2 linked regions of the Homo sapiens genome follow. The protein of the gene in region 1 purifies or fractionates together with the protein of each later gene. This does not show direct contact. Each region holds a gene or a part of one and is shown on either strand. Other genes may lie near its edges.

Region 1 (3,500 bases):
GAAATGAGTGTTCTACAAGTAAATAGTCATCCCTGGAATAATCTAAATCAAAGGTATGTTTCAGTGTTAGGAGATTGTAGGGGTACTTTTTCATGTTCTTTGTCAGAAATAGGTATAGAGTAAGTTTTTTTCAAACTATTGAGATACTGAGAGTAATAATATTCTCTCCTGGGATGTTTAAAGACTTATGGTCTGATCACATTGCCAGTTTGTGCTAAGATTTTCACCATTTTACTTGATGATAACTCTTCTCAGAGTCCAAAAGTAGACAAGGTAGCTAGAAATGCCCTTGTGCACTGGCTGAAGCAATCCTGATGATGGCGGAACTTCATCAAAGCCCACTGGATACTTAAAGGGATGGCCTTAGGGCAAATATTGCTTTTAGGCCCTGAAACAAAATAAAGCTAAATATGAATCTGAGCTCTTGCTTCTGATAGATATAACACCTATTCCTGACACCTGGATCAGATGTGTCCCATCATGGCACTGTCGGTCTCAGGCTGTGTCCTCCCCACCAGCACTCCTGTGGCAGAATAGCTCACTGTCACGCTCATTTTCCATCAAGAGGCGGCAACACTTACAATGTAATGTGGTCAGAGTGATAGCAAGTCTCCCCTCAACACTGAAAACTCTTGTTTTATTGATCTCGTTTTATTGACTTGAAAACTGTCTTGTTTTATTGATTTTTTTTTATTGTCACAATTGGGGGTGGAGATGAGTGCTGCTGGCCTCTGGTAGGCAGAAGCCAGGGATGCTATTAAACTGGCACAACACAGCCCCTTCCAAAAGAGAATTATCAGGTCCAAACTGTCAATAGTGCTGAGGTTGAGAAATCACGATCTAGAAGTACAGGCTTTGCTTGTAGCCCTTGATCTGCAAGAATCCTACTTTACAGTAATTACAAGTAAGGATATACAGATTGTATTTGCTGGTGATTTTACCTATGTTCTTTGCCAGCCTGGCTAGGTTTACTTCTTTTATCAGTGGAAAGTGACAGGTGCATCAGTCCTCTCCACTGATGCCAAAGAAATACCAGGTGTATCCCTTAGAATGCATATAGCCAATCTCCTGGATTTGCCAACACCCACATATCTTTAATGGTCTTCCAGACATTGCTTTCTTAAGATGTTTACATTCTTTATCAGATTATCTTTTACTCCTGGCGCCAACCACTTTAGCATGTTTTCAGTTATTAGAGTCTTAGGATAGTATTTTCTTTGAGATTCAAACAAAAAAGTATTCTACATAGTACTTGTAATCTCTTTCACAATTGTAATTGCCTTTCACAAAGCCGACATTGTCTGATTTTTTGATTCTGCTGTTTATATCTTGGTAGTGTTACCTGTTGGTCCCCTAGTAAACAGTGACAGCAATCTTCTGAACCAGGCTGAGGCCCAGTCAAGTGTAGATAGACATGTATTTCTTATCTCACTGTGGTTTTATTTTTCTGCATGTCTGCCCTAATCAAAGCTTGTGCTGGGAGCTGCAGTGCATCTCATATCTCGGCCTCGGGAGGAATGGTTCATTGCATATTCTCTCAGAGACAGCTGGGCGCTTCGCAGGGAGTGGTCCCCCTCCCTGTCACCAGGGCAATTCTCTTTCACATCTCCCAGGACAGATGGAGAATGAAGAAATTAATAATTCATAGTGTGTATTTAAGTGGTGATTCTTCCTAGACTGAGACATACTTGCATTTTGTTCAAAAACATCTTGATGAAGACAGGCCCAGTGGTGACCTAAGAGTTAGAACATAGGAAGTAGGGAAACTCTTACTAAGAAAATGGACAATACAGGCCAGGCAGGGTGGCTCACGCCTGTAATCCCAGCACTTTGGGAGGCTGAGGCGGAAGGATCACCTGAGGTCGAGGGTTTGAGACCAGCCTGACCAACATGGAGAAACCCTGTCTCTACCAAAAATACAAAATTACCCAGGTGTGGTGGTGCATGCCTGTAATCCCAGCTACTCAGGAGGCTGAGGCAGGAGAATTGCTTGAACCTGGGAGGCGGAGGTTGCAGTGAGCCGAGATTGCACCATTGCACTCCAGCCTGGGCAACCAGAGCGAAAACTCCATCTCAAAAAAAAAAGAAGAAAGAAAATGGACAAGACAGACTGAAATTAGCTAGCAGCCATTAGCTCAGGTACCTTTTAAGTGCTCATTGTACTGATTGATGTTTGGATAGTGCATTAGCAGAAATATTATCTACTTGCACTTACGTTCATGTGATCTGTAGGACTCAGGGGTCCTGTTTGTGTCTGTAGTCATAGTTAAGTTTATAGTCAGTTCCTGGTTGGTGCTGGGGAAAAGAAATCAGGATGCATTCATTGTGAAATACCCTTACTGTCCTCTCAGGAGAGAAGAGGAAATGAGTGTGTTCTCTCTCTTGGTTAGAAACAGATAAAGCTGTGTCCCATTAGCAGTTGGATAGGAAACGGTAACTGGAACCTTCTGTCTAATCTGGTTTCCTTAAATGTAAGGAGCAGATAACTGCATCTGGGGAGTAGTGCTCTTAATAAGGATTATGGGGGCTTCAGTTGCAATGGCTCCAGTTGAAGAGCCATGGGATTTCATCTGTCCTGAATCATCTGAGTGTTATTCTTCTTCACATTAACTGTGTTTATCTGTTATAGTATATAATTATGCTGGTTTGTTATGTATTTGAAAAGCACTTAGCATGTTTTGAAATGTAGCGTTGAAATGACTTTAAAATGTCAACTCTGTAGTTTTAGTTTTAGGGCACAGTTCTTGCAAATTCCTGCTTTTCCTCTCTGACCCTAGTAACTCTGAAATCAGTAGTTGCAAACAAACAAACCCTAAAGCCTTGTGTGTCACTTTTCTTTGGGATAGTTGTTGAATTCAATAGCTCATTATTTCACGTAATATTATGTTCATAGTGCAATTTAACATGTAGTCTTTGAATGTTATAAATTCTAAAAGATTAAACAAGAACATTAGAAAAGGAATGAAAAGTGCTCTTAAAATCCTGCCCTAGGCCGGGCATGGTGGCTCACTCCTGTAATCCCAGCACTTTGGGAGGCCAAGGTGGGTGGATCACCTGAGGTTAGGAGTTTGAGACCAGCCTGGCCAACACGGTGAAACCCCATCTCTACTAAAAATACAAAAATTAGGTGGGTGTGGTGGCGCATGCCTGTAATCCCAGCTACTCGGGAGGCTGAGGCAGGAAAAATGCTTGAACCTGGGAGGCGGAGGTTGCAGTGAGCCAAGATCGCACCATTGCACTCCAGCCTGGGGACAACAGGGAGACTTCGTCTCCAAAAAAAAAAAAAACTCCTGCCTTTCTTGTAATCTGATGAAAGAACTCTGCCTACAGAGGCTTTTAACTATGCAAATTCTTTCCATATTTTTTTTCTTTTTCCTAATATAGTTTATTAGCTTTTACTCAGACTAGGTATAAATAAATAATTATCCCTTGCCTTAGAGGTGAAGTCATTTGAAAGCTCCATGGAATACATTTCTTCTTTAAAAACGCAACAAAAATTT
Region 2 (3,500 bases), on another chromosome or scaffold:
CAACAGGAATATAAACTTTTGGTTGAGATGAATAAACTCTACAGATTTGATGTATAACATTGTACCTGTAGTCAGCAGTAATGCATTGTACACTTAAAAGTTGTTAGGAAAGTAGATGTCATGTTAAGGGTTTTTACTACAGTAAAATAAAAAAAGAGTCCATGTGTCATAATGAAGATTAAATAACATAAAAAATGTGTGGTACAATCTGGCATATACAAACTACTTGTTAAATGTTAATATTTATTATTTAATGTTTATAATACTTAAAAGTCATTTTGTATTTCGCTGTCCTTCGGTTTTGCTTGTTTGTTTGTTTGTTTTGACACGGAGCCTTGCTCTGTCACCCAGGCTGGAGTGCAGTGGTGTGATCTTGGCTTACTGCAAACTCCACCTCCCAGTTCAAGCAATTCTTCTGCCTCAGCCTCCTGAGTAGCTGGGATTACAGGTTCGTGCCACCATGCCTGGCTAATTTTTCTATTTTTAGTGGAGACGGGGTTTTACCACGTTGGCCAGGCTGGTCTTGAACTCCTGACCTCGTGATGTGCCCGACTCGGCCTCCCAAAGTGCTAGGATTACAGGCGTGAACCACCGTGCCTGGCCAATTTTTGTATTTTTAGTAGAGATGGGGTTTTATCATGTTGGCCAGGCTGGTCTTGAACTCCTGGTGATCCGCCTGCCTCGGCCTCCCAAAGTGCTGGGATTATAGGTGTGAGCCCCCGCGCCTGGCCATCCTTTGTATTTTTTGATGAAAAAAAAAAATTTTTTTTTTTTTTTTTTTTTTAAGACAGAGTTTCACTCTTGTTGCCCAGGCTGGAGTGCAATGAGTGCAGTCTTGGCTCACTGCAATTCCCACCTCTCAAGTTCAAGCGATTCTCCTGTCTCAGCCTCCCGAGTAGCTCAGATTACAGGCACACGCCACCACGCCCGGCTAACTTTTGTATTTTAGTAGAGACAGGGTTTCATCATATTGGTCAGACTGGTCTTGAACTCCTGACCTCAGCTGATTTGCCCACCTTGGCCTCCCAAAGTGCTGGAATTACACAGGTGTGAGCCACCACGCCCGGCTGTTTTGATGAAATTTTTTGAAAGAATGTATTCATATTCCTGTAGATTTCCCATTTCCCACATTCCCTCAAATTTAGTTTCCGTGTTAATATCTTCTATTAATTTTGAACAGTGTCTTTATTGTAGTTTATGCAAAGTGAGGAGTGAGTGCCATACTTATTTTGCTTCCTGTTGAGAATAAACTGAAGTTAAATTACTGACATTTTGCATATTATCTCAATCATTTTTTAAGGACCTGTAAAACAGAATAAGGTGAATCCTAATTTGCTAGATGCAGATTTCTTGTAGCTATTTTTGATTCCTGCAGGCTGCTCTGATTTGCTACTTGAGGAGGAAAGCTGATTTGGGGGTTTTCTTTTTGTCTTGGTTCTAGCACATGCAGATGACAATCCAGGCTCTCCAGGATGAATTGCGGATCCAGAGGGACCTGAATCAGCTGTTTCAGCAGGATAGTAGCAGCAGGACTGGCGAACCTTGTGTAGCAGAGCTGACAGAGGAGAACTTTCAGAGGCTTCATGCTGAGCATGAGCGGCAGGCCAAAGAGCTGTTTCTTCTTCGAAAGACATTGGAGGAAATGGAGCTGCGTATTGAGACTCAAAAGCAGACCCTAAATGCTCGGGATGAATCCATTAAGAAGCTTCTGGAAATGTTGCAGAGCAAAGGACTTTCTGCCAAGGCTACCGAGGAAGACCATGAGAGAACAAGACGACTGGCAGAGGCAGAGATGCACGTTCATCACCTAGAAAGCCTTTTGGAGCAGAAGGAAAAAGAGAACAGTATGTTGAGAGAGGTATGTGACTACTTTTTTAGTTTTATGATTTGTTGGTTATCTTTTTTTTCACTGATTAATCAGCATCTTGGCCCCAGTGAATCTACGTGCTCTGCCGTGCTGGTGGAAGAGAATTTCATCCTTTGTATTTAAGTGCGTCACTGATTTCTGTTCTGATTTGCCCTGTTGTATGGGATGACATTGTCTGGTATGTATGCTGGCTCAGTGACTTTCTGGGTCTTTTCTCTCCTGCTCCCCTGATTTTGAGAGTTCATTTGTTGCTAAAGGGGTAAAAAATTCCTTGATTTTTCACTCATCTCTAGATCTGTTCATAGAGACAACAAACACAACAAAACCAGAATCAGAATAGCTAACCATTGCTTAATTTAAAAATATTAGTAAAAGAGAGTAAGCGGTTATCTCAGCTTATGTGTGCTTATAAAAGTCCTTGGCAGCAATAATGGATATTTGCCCTGTGGTTTCCATGGAAACTGTTGCCTTGCTGTAAAAGATACGTGATAAAAATCATTGGCTGCCATGGAGGCATAGCTGGAGAGAGTGATGTAGAGACACAGTGTTACTTATTTTTAGCTGACCTAGGTGACTACTGATAATTTTTTACTTTTCTAAATAATGTATCATTTTAAGAAGGCGTAAAGGAAGAAACCATCTTATATTGAATTAAAAAATTAATAGCCATAATAACTTTTCTATATATAGTTGGACTTCAGGTAATTTTCACTTTTGGGCAGGGGAAAATAAATCCCTAATCTGTGTTAGTATGAGTCTGAATAATTCCTTTTTAAATAAAATGTGAGGAAGGAGGTTTAAAAAATGGCGTATTCCCAAAGCAGCAAAATAATAATTTTTAAAAATACTTCTAAATTTGTAGGTTGTTCTATAATTTTTCCTTTTGTAAAAAGTCTGAAATCTTTTTTAACAGTGAGGGCATTTTTATTTTTGAAGTAGAACATCATTGTTTTTTAAAAACATGATGTTATTACACTGGAAATCCATTGTAGTAAAATTGGGAAATAGATTAACAAAAACTTATAACTCAAAGTATTGTTACCTAGTAGTAATTATTAACTTATGTATATGCTTCCAGTCATTTTTTTTTTATTTTAAATTTTTATTGTTTTTATTTTTAGAGATAGGGTCTCACTCTGTCACTCAGGCTGGAGTGCAGTGGCATGATCATGGCTCACTGCAGCCTTGAAATCCTGGGCTTAGGTGAGCCTTCTGCCTTAGCCTCCCTAGTAGGTAGGTCTACAGGTGCATGCCACCATGCATTGTTAATTTTTAAATTAAAAAAAAAATTTTGTAGAGACAGAGTCTCCCTATGTTGCCTAGGCTGGTCTTGAACTCCTGGCCTCAAGCAATCCTCCCTCCTTGGCTTCTGAAAGTGCTGACATTACAGGCAATATGCCTATGCCTGGCCCATTATTATTATTGTTGTTGTTGTTGTTGAAAGTGCTGAGATTACAGGCAATATGCCTATGCCTGGCCCATTATTATTATTATTGTTGTTGTTGTTGAAAGTGCTGAGATTACAGGCAATATGCCTATGCCTGGCCCATTATTATTATTATTGTTGTTGTTGTTGAAAGTGCTGAGATTACAGGCAATATGCCTATGCCTGGCCCATTATTATTATTATTGT

Evidence for each region.
Region 2: the proteins of SDCCAG8 (region 1) and ERC1 purify together in Homo sapiens (co-immunoprecipitation; one study listed by IntAct). This does not show direct contact.

The regions. Positions count from the first base shown.
Region 1 is NC_000001.11:243,262,541-243,266,040, forward strand, and holds part of SDCCAG8 (serologically defined colon cancer antigen 8), read left to right. Parts: intron 1-3,500. UniProt on the Homo sapiens protein: Plays a role in the establishment of cell polarity and epithelial lumen formation. Also plays an essential role in ciliogenesis and subsequent Hedgehog signaling pathway that requires the presence of intact primary cilia for pathway activation.
Region 2 is NC_000012.12:1,081,723-1,085,222, forward strand, and holds part of ERC1 (ELKS/Rab6-interacting/CAST family member 1), read left to right. Parts: intron 1-1,441; coding exon 1,442-1,858; intron 1,859-3,500. UniProt on the Homo sapiens protein: Regulatory subunit of the IKK complex. Probably recruits IkappaBalpha/NFKBIA to the complex. May be involved in the organization of the cytomatrix at the nerve terminals active zone (CAZ) which regulates neurotransmitter release.